Linked DNA regions of Homo sapiens: all the other regions are linked to region 2. The links come from fine-mapping of genetic effects on gene expression. A gene starts in region 2. Each other region holds a variant in brackets. All regions are shown on one strand. Distances are between the middles of the regions.

The links. PIP is the estimated chance that this variant, and not a neighbour inherited with it, causes the effect.
Region 1: its variant is fine-mapped to the expression of CCDC92 in whole blood (TOPMed, PIP above 0.99).
Region 3: its variant is fine-mapped to the expression of CCDC92 in whole blood (INTERVAL, PIP above 0.99). The same link has a PIP of 0.9 or more in nasal epithelium.
Region 4: its variant is fine-mapped to the expression of CCDC92 in whole blood (INTERVAL, PIP above 0.99).
Region 5: its variant is fine-mapped to the expression of CCDC92 in tibial artery (GTEx, PIP 0.98).
Region 6: its variant is fine-mapped to the expression of CCDC92 in whole blood (TOPMed, PIP above 0.99).

The regions. Positions count from the first base shown.
Region 1 is chr12:124,039,294-124,043,398 of GRCh38, forward strand. The region is part of intron 2 of ZNF664-RFLNA (ZNF664-RFLNA readthrough); the gene reads left to right. Among named protein-coding and RNA genes, the nearest start is that of ZNF664-RFLNA, 68 kb to the left of the region's middle. The variant G/A (reference allele first, on the strand shown) is at 2,196.
Region 2 is chr12:123,971,030-123,975,134 of GRCh38, forward strand. It overlaps CCDC92 (coiled-coil domain containing 92), which reads right to left and starts at 1,802. Exons shown (of 5, transcript NM_025140.3): 1 at 1,500-1,802. ZNF664-RFLNA (ZNF664-RFLNA readthrough) reads left to right here and starts at 2,186. Exons shown (of 5, transcript NM_001347902.2): 1 at 2,186-2,274; 2 at 2,857-2,991. ZNF664 (zinc finger protein 664) reads left to right here and starts at 2,186. Exons shown (of 5, transcript NM_152437.3): 1 at 2,186-2,323; 2 at 2,857-2,991. RefSeq lists enhancers at 549-1,286, 1,287-2,024 and silencers at 1,245-1,364, 1,395-2,264, 2,335-2,414, 2,525-2,754.
Region 3 is chr12:123,937,640-123,941,744 of GRCh38, forward strand. CCDC92 (coiled-coil domain containing 92) reads right to left here. Exons shown (of 5, transcript NM_025140.3): 5 at 1-191. Among named protein-coding and RNA genes, the nearest start is that of DNAH10OS, 4.7 kb to the left of the region's middle. RefSeq lists enhancers at 410-910, 911-1,411. The variant C/T (reference allele first, on the strand shown) is at 2,450.
Region 4 is chr12:123,946,311-123,950,415 of GRCh38, forward strand. The region is part of intron 1 of CCDC92 (coiled-coil domain containing 92); the gene reads right to left. Among named protein-coding and RNA genes, the nearest start is that of DNAH10OS, 13 kb to the left of the region's middle. The variant G/A (reference allele first, on the strand shown) is at 1,850.
Region 5 is chr12:123,857,949-123,861,948 of GRCh38, forward strand. It overlaps DNAH10 (dynein axonemal heavy chain 10), which reads left to right. Exons shown (of 79, transcript NM_001372106.1): 38 at 1,202-1,320; 39 at 3,064-3,222. Among named protein-coding and RNA genes, the nearest start is that of DNAH10OS, 75 kb to the right of the region's middle. The variant T/C (reference allele first, on the strand shown) is at 2,215.
Region 6 is chr12:124,015,580-124,019,684 of GRCh38, forward strand. All of the region lies in intron 2 of ZNF664-RFLNA (ZNF664-RFLNA readthrough), which reads left to right. Among named protein-coding and RNA genes, the nearest start is that of ZNF664-RFLNA, 44 kb to the left of the region's middle. The variant T/G (reference allele first, on the strand shown) is at 2,389.

The DNA of each region.
Region 1 (4,105 bases), 68 kb after region 2:
TAAAATTCATTCACCCCTTATATATAAACCCACAGATGTTAAAACCAGAACAAGGATGTATTCACGGAGGAAACAAATTCCATCTTCAACACAGCACTTGCAGAGGTAGAATTAACTCAGAAAGAGGCTGGACAACTTGGCCTGGAACCCACTGTGGGAAACTTTGGTAACTATCAGCTGTGGTTTGCTTTTCTGCACCACTGACTCAGCAACCCTGCAGTTGGGCACTGGGTGAGTTTGCAGTGGGAGAGAACAACCTTATCCTCTCTTTGAAAAACATTTCCACCCACAGGACAGCTTATTGGGAGGACCAGAACTCCGAAAGAATGAAAAAGGAAAATGAATGAAACCACATAGATTTTGTTTGCTCCTAGTGAAACAGGAAAAGGGAATAAGAACCAAAAATTTAGTATCATTTTGCCTGGATGATTTTTTCAGTTAGCTAGAGAAAAAGATTTGATGGCTTTAATAGGGATTAACAGAAGTGATCTTTCAGAAAGTTATAGATACTTACTTTTAGGGTTTTCTTTTCCCCCCAACTAGCTTGTCTAATGTAATATACATCATGATAAATACCTTTTTTTTTTTTTTTTGAGATGGAGTCTTGCTCTCTCGCCCAGGCTGGAGTACAGTGGCGCGATCTTGGCTCGCTGCAACCTCCGCCTCCTGAGTTGAAGTGATTCTTCTGCCTCAGACTCCTGAGTAGCTGGGACTATAGGCACGTGCCATCACAACTGGCTAATTTTTATATTTTTAGTAGAGACAGGGTTTCACCATGTTGGCCAGGCTGGTTTCGAACTCCTGACCTCAAGTAATCCACCGGCCTTGGCCTCCCAAAGTGTTGGGATTACAAGCGTGAGCCACCGCACCTGGTCAATAGATAACTGTTAATGAAGTATAATGTGTTTTTATGGATATATTTCTTTGTAAGCACATTATGGCCTTTCAATTCAAATACAAGTGTTTCTGATTGAAATCTTGAAGGGGCAACATAATTGGATTTGACCAAATATGGGATTTAGAAATGGAAGCAGATTCAGCCAGAATTCCTGCCTAGGACTTCCTGGGGATCAGGGAAGAGGTGAAATGCACAGGAAATGTCTTCTATTGAACGTGAGGGCATGTTGATATCAAAGGGCCCGGGAGGGCCACACACTATGAACGTGATGTCCACATTCTTGGCGGTGCTCACGGCAGTAACGTGCATTTCCTGTGCGGGGCTGCCTGGCTCCGTCATAGCTTGCCGAGTGTCCCAATGCTGTTATTTCCTCCTGAGGCACCACTCTTCTCGTTTCCAATTTTGTTTGTTGTTTTTTAACACTGTAGAGTTTTATTTCAGTCTACCTACTTGATCTCTTATTTCATTAGCATTTTGGGGTGTTTTGAAGGGATTTTATAATACACCCATTTTTCTTAAAACTTTATATCTTTTAGTTAAGTCGATAAATGTTTAATATATACCCAATTATTAAAAACACTTTAATGCATAGCATCAAAGTCAAAATAGATGATACATATTGTAAATTCCATGTTGCAGAAATTCTAACCTTGATTTTGAGAAGTAAAGCTTACTTCTTACAGCTAAGTAAACCCCCAGAGATAAGTGCAGTTTTCACAATAGTCATTAACTACCCATCACCTGTCATTGCAACATTGATGAATTACTGGTGATGATCACTGCTTGAGTGTTCACAGGCATGTAACGATTATGTCCAGTTGAGAGTCAGAAAAAAGCTCCGGGGCCTTTTGTATGCATAGATAATGTATTCTGAATTATTTGGATGAGGCTTTATACCAGTCAGGGATTTTGCTTGCAAACAGTAGAAATTAACTGGCTAACTTGAGCAGAATAGGACCTTTCTAGAAGGATATTGGGCAGCGTTTGGAATGGAGAATCAGGTTTTATTTTATCATTTTTTTTCTATTTGTTTTTGAGATGGAGTCTCGCTCTGTCACCCATGCTGGCATGCAGTGGCATGATCTCGGCTCACTGCAACCTCTGCCTCCTGCGTTCAAGAGATTCTCCTGCCTCAGCCTCCCAAATAGCTGCAATTACAGGCGCCCACCACCATGCCCAGCTAATTTTTTTGTATTTTTAGTAGAGACGGGGTTTCACCATGTTGGCCAGGCTGGTCTCAAACTCCTGGCCTCAAGTGATCTGCCTCCTTTGGCCTCCCAAAGTGCCGGGATTACAG[G/A]TGTGAGCCACTGCGCCCGACTGAGAGTCAGGCTTGTAAAACCGGTAAGACCAAGAGCAGCTAGGCAGGTCAAGGGTCACAGGTACAGGCTGATGTGGACGCCGCCATAAGTCCTGCCATTATCAGACATTGGCCACTGCCCTGGGCAATCTGTCCTGGTCTCTGGGGCCCTGCAGCCTCTGACACTTGCTGTCCTGATGGGCCTTTGGTGCTGTCCTGCTGCTGGGAAACTCCCCATCACTGGATCTCTGTGTCACAGCCTCAAGGGTCAGGTCCTTAGTGTGGGCATCTGTGTTAGCGCCCTGTAGTTGCCATATCAAAGCCCACGTGCCAGGTGTCTTATAATAGCAGAAGTTCACCCTCACAATTCTGGAGGCCAGAAGGCCACAGGGGCACGTACCCACTGAGGCCCTAGGGAGGAATGTGTTTTGTGCCTCTCAGCTTCCGGGGGCCGCGGCAACCCTCAGCTTCAGTGGGCTTGTGGATGTTTCACTCCTATCTCTGCCTCCATCTCCATGTGGCCATCTTCCTTCTGCGTGTGTCTCTGTGTCCAGATTTCCCTCTTCTTAGAAGGACACCAGTCATACTGGATTTAGGGCACACCCTAATCCAGTATGACCTCATCTGAACTTGATTACATCTGCAAAGTCCTTCTTGCAGATAAGGTCACATTCACAGGTACCAGGTTCCAGGCTGAGGCCACATGCCTACGCCACAGCTCCCGGGGCTGGGTTATCTGTACCTCAGCCTTCGTTGGCCGTAGCGGGTGGTGGGTCCCTGCCTCACAGCAAGCCCCACGGAATGGGGGGTTCCCCCAGATAGGAGGGATGCTTGACATTCATAAAAGAGGCTTTCCCCAACTATACGGCTTCTTGCAGCAATGAGATTACACCATTTCCATCAGCACACCAGTAAAATTGAACAATCACTAGGGAATATCTTTAATTCTTTCTTCTGCCTTTCTTTTTATTATCTTGTTTTAATCATGAATGATTGCGGAGAAATGTTGATCTGATGGACTCAAGTTGAATGGAGTCTTTCTCCCATGTGAGGACCGGAAGCCACCCACACAGATCTCTCTTCTATGGGAGGTGTTCTAGGGTCACCTTATTAATCCCAAATTCTGTCTTACCCTGAGTCGGAACTCTTTCAGCAGAAAACTGTATCTCTGTGGCGTTGAATATGAGGATAGGTTCCAGGAGCACCAGTAGACGGAATGTTTGCCCTGTCACAAGCATTTCTCCTGGCCTAGAGACTGGCAGGGGTTCCTGCATCCCTAAGCAGGGACCCCTGCACCAGGCGAAGGACGAGCCCCCTTCCAGCAACGCGGGATGAGCCAGGGCCTCTCCCCTACCCTGCTTGTCCTTCCTCTGCCCAGTACCCTGCGTGGCTGCTCAGGAGAGTGACGTGTGGAAGCCACTCGGGGTGAGCAGAGGGTCTCTTAGTGATGCTGTTTGTTTCCTGGGACGTGGGTCAGGGAGCCCCTACCCTGGTTGAGAACCACTGAGGTAGGCCGGGATTTTGGATTCCATCCCCAAATTAGAGGAACAGAGTGCATGCATGCCTTAGGCACTAGAGGTGCTTCCACTGGGCCCGTTTGCACAAGTCTGGCCTCTCCCTGTCTTTTGCTGCCACCTGTTTATCACTGGTCAAGAGAGGCCACCGAGGCCGGGCACAGTGGCTCATGCCTGTAATCTCAGCACTTTGGGAAGCCAAGGTAGGCAGATCACCTGAGGTCAGGAGTTCGAGACCAGCCTGGGCAACATGGCAAAACCCCGTCTCTACTAAAAATACAAAAAATAGCTGGGTGTGGCAGCAGGAACCTGTAATCCCAGGTACTTGGGACGCGGAGGCAGGAGAATCACTTGAACTTGGGAGGCGGAGCTTGCAGTGAGCCGAGATTGCGCCAC
Region 2 (4,105 bases):
GTTAATAAAAATATCTAATTTCAAAAAAACCCTATTTGTTAGACCGATGTATTTAAAATGTGTCACAGTAAAAATCTCACACAAATAATTGTCCTGTACTTTAGATCTTAAATGTACCTAAACTAAATTTACTGAGTAATTATAATACGCAGAGGAGTAACAAAACTATTTTAAGATTTTTCAGTGGTGTGTATGGATATGTACGCATACCCGTATATATAATCACGAGTTTTAAAGCCTTCTTCCAAGCATATTTCACATAAGATGAACAGTTAGCCAAAAGAATTACATACATTTCAAAACATCTTTGGAGGTAAAAGCCACTTTAAACGTTAGCATCTTTTTCCTTACAATGCAATAGCGAGAAAATGCATGGGAATTCTTGATGAGCAAAAAAAAAAAAAAAGAAAAGTCGTTTTATCAATACCAATGCTCTTTAAATAAATTTCAAACGTAAAAGTTTTAAAATGGCAATCCTAGTTTTAATACTCTTACAGGTTTCTGGAACTGCGTAATATGTTAAAGTATTACAGCGTGGTAGCTTGCATTTTGTTATAAAACCGACTACTGCAACCTAAGCTACAGAGCGCGGTTATATTTTCTCTCTGGCAGCCTAATTTTCCTTAGTGGACTAGATCGTACTGCTAAATACCAAAACTTGAAATGAAACAATACAGGTCAGCATGAAAACCTAAGTTAGAGAAACTCACTCGCCGTAGCAGACGGCAGCCCAGTAGCCAAGCCTGGAGCTCTGCTGCGTTTGTGCATTCTGCTCCGTTTCACGAATCACAGGCAAATCGTTACTCAGAGTAAACTAAAGCCGCATCAAAGCTTCAGGAAGGGGCTGGCAAGGTAGTGTACTTACGGAAAGGCTACCAGGACGGGAGGCGATACAACTTGTCAGGGAGGGTCTCTAAGGTTCCCCGGGTGGTAACAAGCATTTAAAAAGGCGATGTGGATTCAGACGGCCTCCTCCCCACAGCATCCCAGACAAAGCCGGGCTAGGCCCCGGGGCGCTCCTGGTGCACCTGCAATGCGGATCCCTCGCCCTGCGATCCCACCCCGGGGCAGACAGGAGCGCCCCGGGACCGGCCTCTCCTCCCCCTTGGCACTGGGGTGGGCGCGCGCCGCGGCCGGTCCGCACCCTGGACTGGAGCCCGGGCCGGGGAGCCCCCTCCCCAGAAAGGGCCGGCAGACCCCGCGGGGGCGGGCGCGGGGGTCGCCGAGCCTCAGGGACCCTCTTTCCCCGACTCCGCCGTCTCCCGAGTTGCCTTCGCCCGGGGCCACCCCTGCCCCTGGGGGAGCTAACGTGGCTCCCAAGCCCCGGAGGTGGGGCAGGAGGACCCCGTCCCCCGTCTCCCGGCGGGGAGGGTTTTTAAAGTCTTCGCCACGAACTCCCGTCCCTGCCCGGCCCCTCCGCCCCTGCCCGGCCCCTCCGCCCCCGCCGGCGCTGCCAGGTGAGCGGGGCCGGACTCGACACACCCCGGGCCCCGCCTCACCTGCGGGCGCCGCCGTCGCGTTCCTTCAGGCGGCTGCCCTCTTAGGCTCGGTCCTCCCGGCGGGCGGCGGTGGGGGCCCGTGGCCCATGGGCTGGGCGGGGCGCGGCGGGCGGGGCTGCCTGGGCTCGGGCGCTGCCCGGGCCGGGCCGCCGAGGGAGGTCAGTGGGCACCGCCCGCCCGGCGCATCTCGCCCGCTCCCACCCCAGCGCTAGCCGCGGTGCACCCTGGGAGCGGGGCCGGCGGCGAGGCCTGGCCGCGCTGACCCGGCGGGCTAGGCGCCGGCGCGGCGGCGGGCCTGTGTCTGCCGGGCTGGGCGGGGGCGGCGGGCCGATATTCACTTGGCGAGGCGGGGCTACGCCCCCTTCCGCCCGGCTGTGGCGGGGCAGGGGCGAAGGCCGAGGGGAAGGGAGGGTCGGGCCCGCGGGACGCAGGCGCACAGCTCAGGTGCGGCCGCACTGCGGTTGCCCTGGGTAACGCGGCCCGAGGGAGGGGGGGGCGCGGGGAGGAGCGAGGGAGGCGAGCGGGAGCGCGCGCGCCGGGCGCTGGGGTGGGGGATGGCCGGGCCCGACCGGGCCGGGGCTGGGGGGCGGGGGCGGAGGCGGGCGGTGGGGGCGCGGGCCGGGTGGCCGCGCATGCGTGCGGCCCCCGCTCCCCCGGGGCTTCCCCGGCCTCGTGCGTGCGCACGCGCGCTGTCCCCCGGAGGCGTCTGGGTGTGCGGAGCGCGCGCGCGCGCGGCTCGGAGGCGCACCTGTGAGGTGTCCCTGAGGAGAGGGAGGTGGGTGCGCGGCGCCCGCGGCCTGGGGCGCTGACTCCCCTCACTTGGAGTGAGTTCTCGGCGGCCGGGCTGCAGTCTTTCTTTCTTTCCCGGAGGGAGGCGGGGGCCGGGGGCCAGGGAGCGGGCTGGGGGTGGGAAGGAGGTGGAGTGGCTTAAAGAAAAGAAAAACAACCCATCCCGGAGGATGGGCCTCGGGATGGCGGGGAAGGTCAGAGCGGCTCCGCGCAGCCTGGCGGGTCCCGGGCTGAGAAGCCGCCCCTCGGGCCTCGGGCGGTCGGCCGCGGGCCCGCAGTGCGGGGGAGCGGGGCCGGGGGGCGCAGATGGCGGCCGGTGCGAGCGAGGGCTGGGCAGCGGGCAGGGCGAGGCCGGGCGAGGCCCCTCGGGAGCCGGACTCCCGAGCCAGGCTCCATTGTTGTTGGAGCCGAGGGAAGGGGGAGCGCTGCCGCCCTCGTCGCCCGTGGAGCCGCGTCTTGGAGCCCTTCCAGGCGGGTCCCGGGAGAGGCGGTCATGGCCGCGCCAGGGGACCGGGGAGCCGGGCGGCTGCGGAGGAGCCGGCTGCATGGGGTGCTGTGTGTTTTTCAGGGCGCCCTGCGTCCGGCAGAGGAGGCGAGCATCCCGCTCAGGTGATGAGGAACCCCTCGCGCACCCAGCGCAGAAGGCTGCTGCCGCCGGACGCCTCCATTGTTTGACCACAACAAGGGCCGGATTCTCACCCAGGTAAACCGGCTGCCGGCGCTGTCCACTTCCCTCTGACTCCCGCCTCCGCAGGCGTTCTCACCCCTTCCAGGACTCGACTGCAGTTTTCTCACTGTCCCCGGCTTCTCATGAACTCCGTATACCCCCTCCCAGACATTTTCCCGTCCGGATCCATCTCTCCGCCACATCACCTCTCATTTCCCCCAGAACTCAGCTCCTTTGTGAAACCTTTCTTGCCGAACTCTAACAACTAAATCTCCCCGGGAGCCTGCTCCGAACTGAACTGTTCTGGTTGCTAGATTGCTTACGGGCTGTCTTATTGCAACAAAGGAGACCAGATACCGAAAAAAGATTTCTGAGCTATTGCCTTCTTCAAGGAACGTTTTCTGATATTTACAGTTTATTGTTTTCACAGGCTGGAACGGTTTTTAGGCATTTTGGCTTCTTATTTAGAGAGGGCTCCTATTTCCTTCATAGACGCATAGTTTTTTAGAGCAGGAAATTGACCTTGTTCAACCCGCAGGTTAATTAAAAATTTAAAAATTAATTCTAAATTAGCAGAGTAGTACATTTTCTTTGTAAAAACAGCATATCACAGAGATGGCATTTTGTCTTTGACTATCAACCTCTGTCTTCAGGGATGCCGACTATTATGTGTGTGGTGTTTATCCTTCTAGATCTTTTGGAGTACTTTTACGTGTGTGCACTTAACATCATTTTTGACTGCTTTAACAAGGACTGTTGCACCGTAACTTTCAATGTTAGCATGTAATGCTTCAAGTCATTTTTTAACAACTGCTGCACCATGTTCCATAGTTTCAGTATATCATGGTTTAGCCATTTCCCAAATTGATAGCAGTTTAAGTTTTAACTTTAAAACAGCTTTTTTGCTGGTGGTGGTTCTCTGATGAGATGAAATTTCGGTGATAGGAGCACAGATCTACGCTAATTATCGAGATTCGGCATTTATGATGAAGTTCTCTTTTGGTTAAGAAATTGATATGTGGAAGCAGCCACCCCTCCCCTATGGTAGTTCTGACTCTAGCAGTTAGAAGTTGTGTGACCTTGGGGAGGACATTGAATCACACCAAACCTCGGTTTTCTTTTCTGTAAATGGCCTGCTCTGTCTGCTCCA
Region 3 (4,105 bases), 33 kb before region 2:
ACTCTTGGCCTTCAGCTCCTCCAGGTACTTCTTCTCTCGCTCCTTGATGGTGTTCTCCAGCACTGTGATCATCGCGTTTTTCTGCTCCAGTTCTTTCAACAACTCAGCATTTTCGTTCTCTTTCACTTTCAGTTGGGCTTCCAGCTCTTCACATCTTTTCTTTAATTCACTGCTTTTAGAAGTCCCGTCTCCTACAAGAATAAGCCGAGGAAGCAGGTGAAGAACTCATTAGACTGAGGCCGAGTGGTGAGGCCTATGGGGCAGGCGGACCTGTCTGGTGGGGGCCCTGTCTAGGCTGTGGGGGCCATGCAGAAGGCAGGGCTGTGGGGGCTCTGGAAAGACCCCTCCCCTCCCCGAGGTGGGGAGATCGGGGCATCTCAGAGGCCCTTTCCGGCTCTTAGTTCTCTGGCCTACTGCATAAAAGAATGTCTCTGAACCTTAAAGATGCTGAACTTAAAACAGGCAATTGCAGAGTATCAGACCTCAGCAAACACTTAGGATTCAACTGGCCGCAAATCCCTCTGTCTGCTCAGATGGCATTTATGGAATGCCTGCTACATTCAAAGTACTGTTTTGAAACTCAAATGTAAAAAGAATTATCCATGTCTATTGAATTAAAATTCTGATGTTTAGAGGAGAAGAGGTGTGGGGCTGTCACCTTTGCTCTGCCGCTGGCCGCCTCTCTCACCCCCCTACCCCCGTCTCTCTCACACACACACACACACAGACTCTTTCCCACTTCCTGCTCAGAGAGTGAGCTGTCTCGCCTCTGTGGCTCTTACCCTTGGTCCCTCCCTGCCCCTGCCCTAACACTTCGGGCCTCTGCCTCCTTTTGCTGTCCCTGGGTGCCTGCCCTCACCCAGTCCTTCAGCAAACACCAGCCACCTCCTTCTCCTGCTCTTCTGGTGACCTGCAGTCCCTGGTCACCTCACATAGCACCCTTGGCTCTAAACCCTGGGTCACCATCCTACTCCTCCTAACGCTGGCTGGCTGGCCATCCTCCTTGCCTGGCCCCTGGGAAGTTCTTTCTAGACTCTTCCTTGCTGGTCTGGAATTCAACTTGAGCATCAGCTCCCGATTCAGTGTCTCCTGAGCACCACTTCTCCAAGTGAGTGTCCGTCAGACACACCCTCAAGTCCAGATAGCTGCTCTGCTTCCCACATCTTGACTCTCCCAGGGAAACTGGATGCAGTCGCCATCCCTGGCCTCCCCTCCCTGACTGTGCCTTTCTGCTGGCTGCTCAGTGCTGCCCCCTCCCTGCTCCTCCAGCCGGCCTTGGTCCCACCTCCTCTCTGGTCTTCGTTTCAGCCCATCCTGTATTTAGGAAGCTTGGTCACCCCCTAAATATTCTTGTCCTCTGTTCAAAATGGTTCCTCACTGCCTAATAAAACCCAAACTGCCAGATGCCTTCCAGTTCCTCAATCTGTCCTGAATGTTATCTGCTCCCACATAAATCAAAGCTTCCATCACTCTCCCCAAGCCACCACCTCTTGTTCTGTCTCTATTGTACCCTCTGTCCTTGCCCTAACTCCAGACCTGCACGCCCAGTTTCCCTGTACCAACTCCACCACCCAGGGCCTGCCTAGGCACTGGACGCCACTGGACGTCTTTCCCGGGCTTCTGTCTGTCTTGCTTTGAATTTTCCCACCTGCCTGAGCTAGCAGCAGCTCTGCAGCATGTCCCGCCGCCAGACTCTGAGCTTTTGAGGGCCCACAGCTGACTGGACTGGTCTTGTGCAGGACACTTGCATGTTACAAGCTCGCTGCAGGTGATGGGCGCTCCTCGACTTAGCATGGGGTCATGTCCCGAAAAATCCAATGTAAGTTGAAAATACCGTAAGTCAAAAGTGTGTTTTCGATATTTTCAGCTTACCATGGGTTTATCTGGACATATCCATGGTAAGTCGAGGAGTGTACTGAATGGGTATTGCCCCATGCAGTTGAAAAATTTTAAGTTGAACCATTGCAAGTTTCTAGTTTTAAAAACCATGTGTCTGTGTGTGTATGTGCAGGTATAATGTCAGCAAATGACCTCCCTAAAAAGGATGCATGCAGTACTACCTTTCATGAGGTTTCTTCTTTTGCCAAAAGGAAAATAGATCCTAAAACACAGTTTCAGAGGTAGAGAGAGGGACAGAGACACACACACGACTCTGTAGACACTGTAAGACCCAGGAGCCCAGCCACCTGGGCTGAACCCCTGCAACCTGAAATGCTGACCTGGGCACGGCATTGGGCCTGGTACCCGCTGTCCTTCCCCCAGGGCCTGTGGGACAACAACCCATGCCTGTCGCAGGGCCTTTGCTTTCAGCCCACACTCGGGTGGACAGTGGGCCTTGGGCTCCTTCCGAGGAAGGGCTGCAACCTCAGACCTTCAACCACATCCCTGGCCTGCTGTGAGCATCCTGGGATTTTTCTTCCCCCAGGCAGTGCTGCAAAAGGCTGATGGA[C/T]GTTTGGAACATTCAGGAACAAGGCTGTCCCTGGGCTTTGCTCATGTCCTGTGAGGGGCAGCCCACAAAGGCAGAGGGCCCTGGTGGTCGGACTGGGGACTTGGATTTGTGGGGCACCTGTCAGATGAAGATGCAGGTTCAGAGATGTCAAAGAACCTGCCCAAGGCCACACAGCCCCTCCGAGTCAGAGCAGAGGCCCAAATCTGGGGCTCATTAAGCATCACTCTGGTTCTTTTCGCCACAGCATCCTGAGAGAAGCTCCTCCTGGATAGACATCCTCCTCATCATCCTTCCTTGAGAGTCATCTAGCTGTGCTGCCTCCTCCTCCAGGGTGCAGCCTTGGCTCCGGGCTGATGTTTACCGGCCCCGACTTGAGTGGGCCGTCCTGTGGGAAGGAGCTGGTACGACTGCTCCTCCATCCCCAGCTCTGGAGAGCTGCTTCAGTGACTGTCCTTCCCAGGAATCAGCACCTCCTGTTTTGCCAATTTCTTGCTCTTTATAGAAAGCTCCACTCCACCTCCTCCTCTGTACGTACCCCCTTTCTGGAAATTTCAGTCTTCCCATGAAAGCTTGGTGCACACTGAGCTGACAGCAGCCAACTGCTGCTGGTCTCCAAACGCTGCACTGCTGAGCCTGCCCGAGCGTCAGGGCACTGCAACGCTTCTAAACCTGCGCACTCCCTGGGCCCGCCCAGACTTCTGGGGTCACAGCCCCCAGGGGAGGGAAGCCAAGAGTCTATGCTGTACCCTGGGTCCCGAAACTGCTTGGAATTGGGCAGTTTTGGGTGCACTAATGTAAAACAATGATTTTCACCACTGGGAGGGGAGACGCCCCGACTGGAACCACCTGAGAGGCTTTTGAAACTGCCTCCCCTAAGACACAGCCCTTGCTGTGAGACCCTGCTGCTGCTGGGAGTACTACATCAGGTGGGTGGGTGGGTGGGCAGGTGGCCTTGGGACCTCAGGTTGAGAACCGTGACTGGAGAGGCCACAGGGCAAAACTATGCTGCTTCAGATTAGCCTGGGCCAGGAGAGGACAGGGAGCGAGGACGCCCTGGCTTCCATGACACGGGTAGCTCCTTTCCCAAGGCTTCAGTGCTGGCAGGTGTGGACGCTGGAGGTCCCTAGTGTCAGGCTGAAATCCTGTTCCTCTGCATTCCCACAGGCCCAGCTCCCAGTCCCAGGGCTTCGGGGGAGGTCCCTGGTATCCCTCCACAGGGAGACTTCTGAGGACAGGCTCCCATTCCACCACCCCAAGAAGCCCACGGCGCCTTCCCTACCACACGCAGACAAAAAGATGTCTGGGCTCCTGGGTGGCGCACTCAGGAGGCTGTAATATGAGCAATGCAAATGGAAAAAAATCAGTGCTCGGTAATCCACTAAGGCTTGGTGGAAATGGTCTGTGTCTTTTACAAGGAACTGGACACTCTCATGAATAGTAACTGCCATTGTGAGGCCTGTTTAGAAAAAGGCATTGTGGGGAATGGAGAAGTTCTTCAAAGTTTCTTGAAACCATAAAGAGCTTGTCATTTCCTTGCTCTATGTATATCTCTATATATGTTCCAGTGTAGCTGCTCCGCCTTGCCCCGGCACGCCTGCGCAGGGCTGAGCGAGCCCTGGACCATAGTGCATGCTCTTCCTTATTTGGAAACTCTCC
Region 4 (4,105 bases), 25 kb before region 2:
CGAGCTTTCCTCCGGGTGCCCTGCTGGGCTGTGCTTCTCCCACCCTGGTGCCCTCTCATGGCTCCTCCTCTGCCCAGAACACTCTTCTTAGGCCTCTCTCCCACCCACCTCTCCTGGGTCTCCACTGTCTACTTATCCTTTAGGTCTCAGTACAAGTTTACTTCCTCCCGGAAGCCCTGGCCCCCAGACTCGGGTGCATTACCACCCTGTCCCCAGTTCTAGTCTTTGTGTCTCTGTGAGGGTCTGTAAGTGTGGGTCTGTTTCCCGCCTCCTCGCACAGACTCCAGATTGTTCACTGCTGCACCCTAAGCCCTAGCACAGTGCCTGGCACCCTGGAGGCCCACGAATGGGCCTGGTGCCAGTCTGTTGAGTGCAGCTGTGGTGCCAGAGGAATGTAAGGGCTTCAGGGTTGAAAAGCTTTTGTTTCCATGGGCTTCCTATTTAGGTGCTTCTGAGAAGTGACAGCCTGCTGGCAGTCCTCACAGCCCTCGCTTGCTCTCAGCACCTCCTCTGCCTGGGCTCCCACTTTGGCGGCACTTGAGGAGCCCTTCAGCCCACCGCTGCACTGTGGGAGCCCCTTTCTGGGCTGGCCAAGGCCGGAGCCCGCTCCCTCAGCTTGCAGGGAGGTGTGGAGGGAGAGGCGCAAGCAGAACCGGGGCTGCGTGCGGCGGCGCTTGCAGGCCAGCTGGAGTTCTGGGTGGGCGTGGGCTTGGCGGGCCCCGCACTCAGAGCAGCCAGCGGGCCGGCCCTGCCAGCCCTGCCGGCCCCGGGCAATGAGGGGCTTAGCACCCAGGCCAGCAGCTGCAGAGGGTGTACTGGGTCCCCTAGCAGTGCCAGCCCACCAGCGCTGCACTCAATTTCTCACCAGGCCTTAGCTGCCTTCCCGCAGGGCAGGGCTCGGGACCTGCAGCCTGCCATGCCTGAGCCTCCCACCCACTCCATGGGCTCCTGTGCTGCCCGAGCCTCCCCGACCAGTGCCGCTCCCTGCTCCATGGTGCCCAATCCCATCGACCACCCAAGGGCTGAGGAGTGCAAACGTACGGCGCGGGACTGGCAGGCAGCTCCACCTGCAGCCCCGGTGTGGGATCCACTGGGTGAAGCCAGCCGGGCTCCTGAGTCTGGTGGGGACGTGGGGAACCTTTATGTCTAGCTCAGGGATTGTAAATACACCAATTGGCACTCTGTATCTAGCTCAAGGTTTGTAAACACACCAATCAGCACCCTGTGTCTAGCTCAGGGTTTGTGAATGCACCAATCGACACTCTGTATCTAGCTACTCTGGTGGGGCCTTGGAGAACCTTTGTGTGGATACTCTGTATCTAACTAATCTGATGGGGAGGTGGTGAACCTTTGTGTCTAGCTCAGGGATTGTAAACACACCAATCAGCACCCTGTCAAAACAGGCCACTGGGCTCTACCAATTAGCAGGATGTGGGTGGGGCCAGATAAGAAAATAAAAGCAGGCTGCCCGAGCCAGCAGTGGCAACCCGCTCGGGTCCCCTTCCACACTGTGGAAGCTTTGTTCTTTCGCTCTTTGCAATAAATCTTGCTACTGCTCACTCTTTGTGTCCACGCTGCTTTTATGAGCTGTAACACTCACTGCGAAGGTCTGCAGCTTCACTCCTGAGCCAGTGAGACCGCGAACCCACCAGAAGGAAGAAACTCCGAACACATCCGAACATCAGAAGGAACAAACTCCAGATGCGCCACCTTAAGAGCTGTAACACTCACGGCGAGGGTCTGCGGCTTCATTCTTGAAGTCAGTGAGACCAAGAACCCACCAATTCCGGACACACTTCCTTTACAGGCACACCTTGCTCAAAGAAAACGGGATATACTAAAACATCCC[G/A]AAATGAGATGACCACCTCACCCGCCATGATGGCACAAAATGGGATGTGCCTATATGTAGATGTCAGTATTTTCTTCTACGCTCTCCCACGGGGGCAGAGGGGAATGGAGTACAAATGTTATCAGCAGCCATCTCTATCATAGTGTGGTATTACATTTCATTTGTAACAAATTTAAATATGATTTAGTAAGTATTCATACTCTAACTGCCTTGGTCAATCAGCAACTTTGAATTATAACAACGCTGTGTGTCATTAATCCACTCTGTTAACTGCAGAAATACAAAAGCGTCCTTAAAGCGTCCCATTATAATGGGCAGACAGCCTGGAGAAGAAACGGCAGGCGAGCAGGGAGAGTGTGACCATGTAACGCGCAGAGCTCCACAGTGAGCGCTGGTGAGCCACTCGGAGCCCTCACAGTGGGGGACAAGGGTCTCCTGGCCTGGGGCATTTCACTGACTGTCGCTCTCCCCTTCTTCCACACTCTGTGCTGACTGAAAAGGCCCTGACATGGAGACGCCATCTGTGCAGGGCATTCTACAGCTGTTAGGATATTCCTGAATAAGGCAGGTCCACTTGGGGCCAGGGAAACAAAACACATCTCCAAATGGCATCCAGATTACTCAATTATTTTCTCATCAGCTCAAAAGAGTAACAATATCACTGGCTTTCTGAGGGCAAAAGAGTTTTCACGGCTGAAAAGACAGTGGTGTTTTCCATTGCGATCCTTCACTACTGAAGAGAGGTAATCATTGTGATGATGTCATGCTCCCAGTACTGTGACATGACTGAAGCCACCGAGGCATCCTGTTTAGGCTGAGGAGACCCAGCCGGGAGATGCACATAATTCAGAGGGAGAAATGGAGTTGGTCCCAAGAGGCTTAATTCAGTATCAGAGATGCTTTAGAAACATGAAGGAGCATTCAAGACAGATCCCTAAAAGGGTCAGCGTGGCAGATGAAAGGAGAAAGGCAGGGCGTCTGCTGCAGATGAATAACGCCGCCTGCTGAGTAAGGGCACTCACCCCATCTTAGCTGTGTGTCAGCCAGGAATGGAGGGCAGCTCATCCAGCCCGTTTGGCAAAACGCTTGCACTTTCTGTGTCAAAAGGGCATACGCTACAAATTGTGTGCTCTTTGTACTGCAGCAGTCCGTCCTGAGGCAAATCCAATTTTGTTCCTAAGCGTTGCTGAGAGCCATCCGCAATCTTACAGTATTTGCTCAACCAAAGGCGGCAAGGCCAGGACATTGGTCTTCTTCCCTCCTTGGAGATGCTGCCCACAGCTGCAGAAAATGGGGCTCCAACTGACTATCACTTCAGGGCCTGGTCACGGCTGCCAGAGGGCCAGCCCCACCCAGGTGACTTTGCACAGCTCTGCTAGTTTTTCTCCCCACAGAACGCCAGCAGAAGCAATGCAAATGGGTACCTCGAGGGTCAAAGTCCTGCTGAATAGGTTACCTTGATCAGGGCTCAAAGGTTAAGCCACACGTACAGTTTTTCCTATGGCAAATCCACTAGGTAAATTAATTTACTGTTCACTCTACTTGTTCAGAAAGTTAATACTCAAAAAAGGCTTTTCATTCCAAATCCTATAGAGATAGGCTCTGAAGACGTGGCAAGACAGCTTCCTGGATGGGGAAGCGCACTGCCGTCATTTCCTAGTGTCAACGTGTCTGAGGAAGGCCCGGCCTCGCCGAGTATGCTCTCCAGCAGCGTGAAGACAAGGGGCCCTATCAACAGCTCAAGCCGAATTCCATCTTCATTCCAAAGTGCTATCCCTTCCTCTCAGGGCATTAATGTAACATGACGACATAATTCTATCCATGGACCACCTGACTTGCCCGAGCACAGTGTTCTTTCACGTTACTTACATCATTTGCTCTTGCAACCCGCCTCTGGGGAAAAGAGGACACTATCCCATGAAAAGAGAGAACATAAACCAATAAATGCATCTAAGCCTTGCCGCTTCTCCTAGCCCGCAGGTGATGTGGTGACAATCCTGACGTCTGGGGCAGATTTAATTTCATGCAGAAATTCAGATGTTTTCCAAGTTGTGCACATCAAGTCTCTAATACTTTGAAACTGCAGAGGAAACGCAAACACAGCCCACTGAAGTAGCCTTTTGGCCCGGAAGGGAAAGCAGCGTTCCTCCAGAGTCCAGAGCACAGGGCCAGGCCGTCAGAACAGCACTGCTCGCACGGAGGCTGGATCCACTGGCTCTCGAGGGTCCACGTTAGAAAATCACACAGCTGTAAAGG
Region 5 (4,000 bases), 110 kb before region 2:
GAATCATGTAATTTTTGTCCTTTTGTGTCTGGCTTATTTCACTAACAGTGTTTTCAACATTTATCCATGTTGTGGCATGTGTCAGAATTTCTTCCTTTTTAAGGCTAAATTTTATATATATAGTTTTTTTTCACACAATGTGATCAGGTGACTCAAATATTTTGTTTTGAGGCATCAACCATCAGAGGTTCTTTCCTCACCTCACCTTTTTTTTCTCCTGAGTCACACTTAAAAAAAAATTAAATTAGATATTGCAGGGATAGGATTTGGATCCTCTGAAGCCTGTAAGTTGTATATGTTGTCATTAAGCCAAACACGTATTGATTGGCAGAGTCCTGCTGAGAGTGTAAATGCCCAGAGCCTCCAGACCTGGGGGGTTGCCTCGGGTCGGGCAGCTTCAGGGTGTCAGGCTACCCCGGAGACCTCAGGCCTGGGCAGTGGGCACCGGGTACCGGCCGTGGACGAGAGCTTTCTGTGCTTTTCCTGACCCTGATTTTCTCTGGAGTTGGTTGTTGAAAAAGATGTGTTTTCTGGAAGGAATATAAAATGGTGCAGCCACTTTGGAAAACAGCCTGGCAGTTCCTCAACAGGTTAAACCGAGAGTTACCATAAGACCCAGCAATTTCACTGCTGGGGATCTACCCAAGAATGAGGACGAACGTCCGCTCAGAATTGTTCATGAATGTCCGGAGCAGCATTATTCATAATAGCCAAAAAGTGGGAACAACCCAACATCCATCAGTTGATGGATCCACTGCTGAAACAGAATGTGGTCTGTCCATCCCATGGGATATATTTTGGCCATAGAAAGGAATGCAGCACGCGTGCTACAACATGGATGAGCTTTGAAAACATGCTAAGCGAAAGAAGCCAGATGTGAGAGATCACACATTCTAGGATCCCATTTCCATGAAATGCCCAGAATACGCAAATCCGTAGAGACAGGAAGTAGATGAGTGGTTGCCAGGGGCTGGGGGAAAGGGGATTGGGAGAGATGGGTACAGGGTTTTTTGTGGGGAGGGGTGATAAAAATGTTCTAAAATTGCTCATGGGGATGGTTGCACAACTCTGTGAATATACTGGAAACCATTGACTTGTACCCTTTCAAAGGTAAATTGTATGGCGTGTGTGTTGTATCGCAATAAAACTGCGTCAGAAAAAAGATAATGTTTTAGCCCAGCTGCCATTGTTTGTCCCGCAGGTGGATAAAGTGGTTCAAATGTTCGAGACCATGTTAACCCGCCACACGACGATGGTGGTGGGGCCCACCAGAGGGGGCAAGTCCGTCGTCATTAACACTCTGTGTCAGGCCCAGACCAAGTGAGTATGACCTCCGTAGGGAGGGCCTGGCTGCCACAGGGGCTCACAGTATATGTTTGGTGCCAGTATTACCAAGTCCCACTTTGCTCTCTGATTTCCTGGGAGGGTAAATTTGTAATACACACCCCTTTCGACTCAGCGTGTTTTTACTGACTTTATTGCAGACTTAGTTAAGATATTTTAGAATGCAAAATAGCAACCCGCTTGTGCATCAGATGGTGAATAGGTTCATTTGTGAAATGAGAATTTCACAAACTATCTTATAAGGATATTTTGAAAATGAATGTAAGTCATAGTTTCTTGGGGTCCAAATTGCTTCCTTAAAGTAAGTCAGGATTCACCTTATGCAGTACTGCTGTGGTTTCGCAGTGGCCAGAAAACGAATGTCACCTCCCCGGGTGCCTTATAATCGCTAGCCCTTCGGGGGCAATTCTTCACGAAGGAAAAAGTGATCGTACACTCCCACATTGAAGATCGTAAAGGAGCCAGGCATGGTGGCTCACGCCTGTAATCCCAGCACTTTGGGAGGCCTGGGTGGGAGGATCCCATAGTCCAGGATTTTGAGAACAGCCTGGGCAACATAATGAGACTCCGTCTCCACATTAAAAAAAAATTAGCTGGGTGTGGTGATGTGCACCTGTAGTACAGCTACTCAGGAGGCTAAGGAGGGAGGATTGCTTGAGCCCAAGAATTTGAGGCTGCAGTGGGCTAGGATTGTGCCACTGCACACCAGCCTGGGCAACAGAGTGAGACCTTCTCTCTAAAAAAAAAAAAAAAGGAGAGTATGTCATAAAAGCCTGCAGTGAATTGAAAGCCTTCTACTGAAAGTGGATTCCTGACTCCTCACTTCTCTTCTAAGCAATAACTAGATTCCAGAAAGACCTCCGTGGATGC[T/C]GATAGCCCGGCAAAAATCTAAATCAAGCCAAAGTTTCTGTGACTTAAACATTTCTAGGCAGTCTATAAAATCTAAAGAGTAAGTGTCTGTCATATGTTCCCATTATTTCTTCATATGTTTCATATGAGAAAACCAGTCGACAGTGGCTTACTGACTCTAAGTGGGCTGTGCCGTGGCCATCTGCATTTCATTCTTTAATTCATTCATTGTAAGTTTATAGAACTATCACACAGTTGTATGCATGTGTAATATAGCATGTACATTATGATTTACTGATTCGTTGGTTGTGAACTGTGGAGTGTGTGAAGTTTTGTTCTCTATAGATGAATTAATCCTATAGTTAGTGCTGCAGGGATTTACAGGCACTGTGGTGAGAAATGCCCTGTCTGCTTGATTCATGAAGTCAACAGAGCAGCTGTTGTTCTGTAGATAAGGAGGATTGAACATTAGTAGTCCAAAGCCTTGTTATTATCGTGGATGACTGAGTGTGGTCTCCTATACGCCCTTAATTCTGAGATATTTACTTAAATGTCATATATATGAATATGTAATATGCATAAATATGAAATATACATGAAAGTTAGCTTCTTGGTGCCCTCCAGAGGCAAAGCTGTGCTTCTAGTTCAGACTTCATTTGTGCTGTGGCCACATTTTTGGTGAAATGTGGTTGCTTTATATTTAGAAGAAAGCACTAACAGTGAAGGGAAGCCCAGTGAAGAGTTTGCATGGGTTGCATTTTCAATTTTGGATTAAAGTCAAAACATCTAATTCCTCATAGAGGGAACCCAGACTGTTTTCCTCATGCATTTAGTTGTCTTGAACCATGGCTAAAGCCTCTCTTGATTTAGGCTTGGGCTGACGACAAAGTTGTACATCCTGAACCCCAAAGCCGTGAGTGTCATAGAACTCTACGGCATCCTGGACCCAACCACCCGAGACTGGACAGATGGGGTGTTGTCAAACATCTTCAGGGAAATCAACAAGCCAACAGACAAGAAGGAGCGAAAGTGAGTATCTTTGTAGGTAGGAAAGAGCCTGGGTTAGTTAATGTTAATTAGCTCAACATTAAAAACGGTGGCAGGACTATACATTGTAGCTTCATGCTTGGATTTCAACAGACTTAGAGTCCAGTCTTGGAGGCTGTGCTTCGGAAGTGCGCAGTCCAATCTTAGTGCTTTTTATGTGTGACCTCAGTTGTCTTAGTGATGCAATGTGGTAGGTACCGGGATTGTTCCCAGCTTACCACAGAGGAAACTGAGGCCTAGAAAAGGTCAGAAATGTGGCCCAAGGCCAGGGATTTGGCCCTGATCTGTGTGACTCTAAGTTCTCAAACACAGCCGCCATCAAGCTGCCTGATCACCACGTTCTATGGCAAGGTAAGTCAAGGAAAGGTAGCAAAGGGCCATGGAAAGTGCAGGAATGCCCTCCTGAGCCACGGCTTTCCATCTGTAGACGTGGTTGATGGTGCCCTGATGACATCACCACATGCCATGGCAAAGGCCAAGTGAGGCCAAGTACAGAAATGCTCTGAGGGTGTGTAAGGTAAAAAGCTTTTAGTTGGTCCTATAATATCTCTTTGCTAAACTCAGGAATGGTTCTGATTTTATGTTCTAATCAAATCCCATTAATAATAAATAAAATCCTTAAATAACAAGAGTCCAAAGTCCCAACTCATGGCTTTTAAAACAGCTTCTTAGCGCTTTTCCCCTGATTCTGGATGAACCCAGGATTCCACGCTGAATTCCGTTGTCTTGTTTTTGGCATTCTTTAATTTTGAGCAGTTCG
Region 6 (4,105 bases), 45 kb after region 2:
GCTGTTGATACTCACATCTGGACAACAAGCCTCGAATGGGCCTTTCTCGGGCACACTAAGGTGTGAGGACACCTTGGTCTGAGGTCACAGCCACACAGGTAATAAATGACTCAAGTCAGGAATAATCCATCTGGAGAGAGCACAGTCCACTGAGAGGACTGCCTCAGCTCGGCTGTGGCTCTGTGTTCACGGCGAATACAGGCCCACAGCTCTTCTAAGAAAACACCAACCTCGATTTTCACACACAGTTTAATCTTAAAATGTTGGCAGCTAATTCCTTTTCCTTGGGTGATCCATTTTGGTGCTTTCTGTGATCTTCCTGGTGCCCCTTGGCAGTTCCTCCAAGCCCTGCCCTGGCCCCTGCTGACTGCAGCCCATGCCTGGGAAGGCGTGAAGTGCTGTCAGCTGAAGCAGAGGGGGCCCACGTTCTGTGCCGCAGTCAACAGTCTGACTGGCTGTGGCGTCTACCAGCTTTGAGAGACAAGTCTGCATTGCAATTCCACCATTGGGATGGGAGCAACCCAAACTAGCCCTTCTGATGGGGGTGGGGGGTGGGGGCAAGGGTAGGTCATCTGTGATGGGATTCACTCTTGGTGAATCTGCTAGGATTTAGAGTGTGAGCCAAGATAAGTCCAGAATGACTGCATGGTTTCTAACTTGGAAGCATGAATAAACGGCAGATTGCCTCTTGCAGATAGGAAGAACTCTTTGCATCAGAGTCCAACATTGAGATAGTCTACTGCGTGAGAATGTGGGCACAGCTCGTCAGGCCATCTCAGAAATTGAAGAGGGATTACTTTGTGTTGTGTGAGCATGGACATGATTCCTTCCAAGGGACCTTCTAGCTCTTGGCTCTGTTCTTAAAATTTTTGAATTATTTCTCAGTCTTTGTAATGTACTGATATTCTCAGAAATTTGAAAAACTAGGTGAATGGAAAGCAAATATCAGAAGCAGATGGAAAATATACTCAGTGGTAAAATCTAGGAAAAGATGAGAAAGGTTGATACTACTACAGGGCAAGAGCCATATATAAATAGCAAAGCTGAGTTAAGATCTATGGATTAGAGAGGAAGAGAGGAAAAATGAAGATGATAGAGCACTTCCTCTAACCATATTCATTTTCTTAATTTTTCTAAACCTCAAGTTTCTCATCTTTAAAATGGTTTTGAAAATATCTAATTCATGGAAATGTTGGGAGAAGTAAATAAACGTAAAGTGCCTAGCATTTAGTGCTATAACGAATTCCTATTCCCAGTTGCCTATTAAGGAAGAAAGGTCATGTTATTTGGATTCCTTTTTGTTTTGCTGAGCTCTGTGGTGGGTTTGGACATCTAAAATTGGGGTAGGACCTGGAGAGGGCTGAATTGCTCCACATGGTAAGAGAGAGAACTTGAATCTCCTGGGGTAGTTGGAGGTAAGAAAACAAAGGGTAGACTTGGAGTGGGAGAGAGGACCAGGGAACCAGTGGAGTAGGATGGTCTGAAGTTCTGAGCTCTTGTGTAGGAAAACTTCGTGACCACAAAGTCTTTCCCTAAAGTTAGGGGTGTTTGGCATGGTGGATTTCTTATGGAAACTGGTGGAAGGGCTGAGTGCTGTATCCAGGGTGAAATGGGGCAACACGTAAGTACCACACATAAATATAGGAGCCAGAAGAGGGTGCCCCTGAGAACAAGCTCCAAGGAATATGCAGAATATGCAGAAATCTTCAGGGTAGCTAAAAGCTGCTACAGGCCATGGAATTAATGGAGTTTTGAGTCAAGTTTACCCAAACCCCTAAGGGGCAGGGAGGCCTGGGATATCTTTATTTCCACTCTCAATGTACATGAAGTAGAATAACTTTATAATCATAAGTAAGTTGAAACTTAAGAATTTTTTTTATCATTCTCATTTTAACATATTACAAAACACATGAACAAATCCAGAGATCCCAAGGCTGTGTGTGTGTTTATGCCAGTAAGAACTTGTCATAAATATCGGTGGAAAATGACACTTTATACCAAAGCAATTTTATTGCTCAGATTTAGGCATATGTAAATAAACTGCATTTCTAGAGTAAAGTAGCACATACAGATTTTGTGTATTTTTAGGCGGATGTATGCATTTTATAGACTCTGTACCTTCCTAAATACTGTGTCTAAATATGGCTTCGCTGAGAGACCGACTTTCCCTCCCCCTCTTAATTCTTTGCTGGCCCTGATCCAGGTCTTCTCTGCATCATGAATTATGGTGGGGGTGTTGTATTTACAGAATTTTAAAACCTAAGACCTGCAGACGGCTTTTGGGGAGGTCTAGAACCTTTTTAAGTTATGTGCAGAATTTTGTGTACCTGTAGGTCTATGCATTTTTCTAGGAAAGGGGGCTTTCCTTATGTTTGTGACTCTAAGAGA[T/G]AAAGAACACTGGCTGGCATATGGTTACTCGTTGTTTGGGGATCTTGGGAGGCAAAAGGGGTGCCTAAGAGTTCCAGTTAGTGGAATGGATAGGAAATGATGGGTATAATAAACGGAGGAAAAAACACAACGCTGTGTTGTGAGGAAAGAGGGAAAAGGACGTTGGCATAAAATGGAAGGATACATGTGCATGTGTTGTTATGCTGGGCCCAGGAGGTAGGCTGTGTGGCAGTTTCGATGTCATACGCTTAAGACAACAGTTCTGCGAACAGTGTATTAAAAGAATATAGGTGAGGACAATTGAGTATTCAGAGGGGACTGGCTGGACGTGGACGGAATTGGCTACCTGAATGGAAAACACTAGATCTCAACTGAATCTGTCTTGGTTACAGAGGAGGCAGTTCTTGCTGTAAAATGGGTGAGGGCCCCAGTACTGGTGTGGGTTGTATTTAGGTTCTCAAATAGACCTATTCATATTGCTCAATGCCATGTTCTCTCATGTCTAATTTTTATGTCCTACCTCACTTGCCTGGGATCTCTGACTGTTTAAGTCAGTCCTCTTTAGTCTTCATCCTGTCTGTCCCCAAAATGTCTTTTTTTTTTTTTTTTTTTTTTACCCCTGATACTCTTCCATCCTTGTGTGCCCCCCGCTCCCCTTTCTGAGATAAGGTCAAGACCCACAGGGACTTAGTCTCAAGGGTAAGTCCTGTTTCTACAGTCTGTGGAGGATGACGGGAGAGTCTGGTAGAGCAGCAAGCCCTACTTCCTGGAGCTGTTGTTGCCACATTGTTATAGTTGAAACAGGCAGTGTCTGGAAAGAACTGAATCCTCTGTGTTTTGCTTGCCTCACTTGATCCAGTAAACATTAGGAGAAGAAATTAAAAAAACAGGAAAGGATAAGATGGCAGGAGTAAGTTGAAGCATATTGTTAATCATAGTAAATGTGAACTGGTTAAATTCAGCTACTTAGGGACATTTTCAAGTTGATTTGTAAATGACGTCACAAACGTGTATATGATGGTTATGGGAGACCACCTAAAATAAAGGGGTGACCCAAAAGGCTGACAGTGAAGGGGTTGAAAAAGATCAGGAAATGCTAAAAGAAAGCAACTGGTGGTAGTATTGTCAGTCCGTTTATGAAAGGAATAATTTGTCAAGAAGATAGTTATATACTTTCATTAGCTCACAACATAGCTTTGAAAGATAGAACATGGTAAGAAATTAAGCAATTCCCAGTCACAGCAAGATATGTTAACCCTCACCCATCAGAATTTGAAAATCAACTAGACAAAGAAGGATCTGGCTATTTAACTAACACTGTTACCAAACTTGATGTGTCCACTGTGTGTGAACTTTGTGCAGCAGATCCTCTTGGAATGGTCATAGAAATTAGCCATGCTTTGTGCCAGAAAGGAAATCTCACCAGATTCCAAAATGTAGAAATCTCACAGGTCATATTCTCTGACTATAATGTAATAAAAAATTGAAGTCACTGAGAAAGAGCCAAAAGTCCTGTCCATTTCATCCCAAGTTACAAATAAAGAGGAAATCAAGTGTAGTAGAGATGAGTGGCAGAGATGGCACTGTGGGGCACGTCTTGTGGATGGGGCCGAAATGAAAAACTTTCATAGCCTTCAATTCATTTATGAGATAAGGAATATGAAACTAAGCAGTCAAACAAGCTGGAAAAAATACTGCAGGATTTTTAAATTTTACC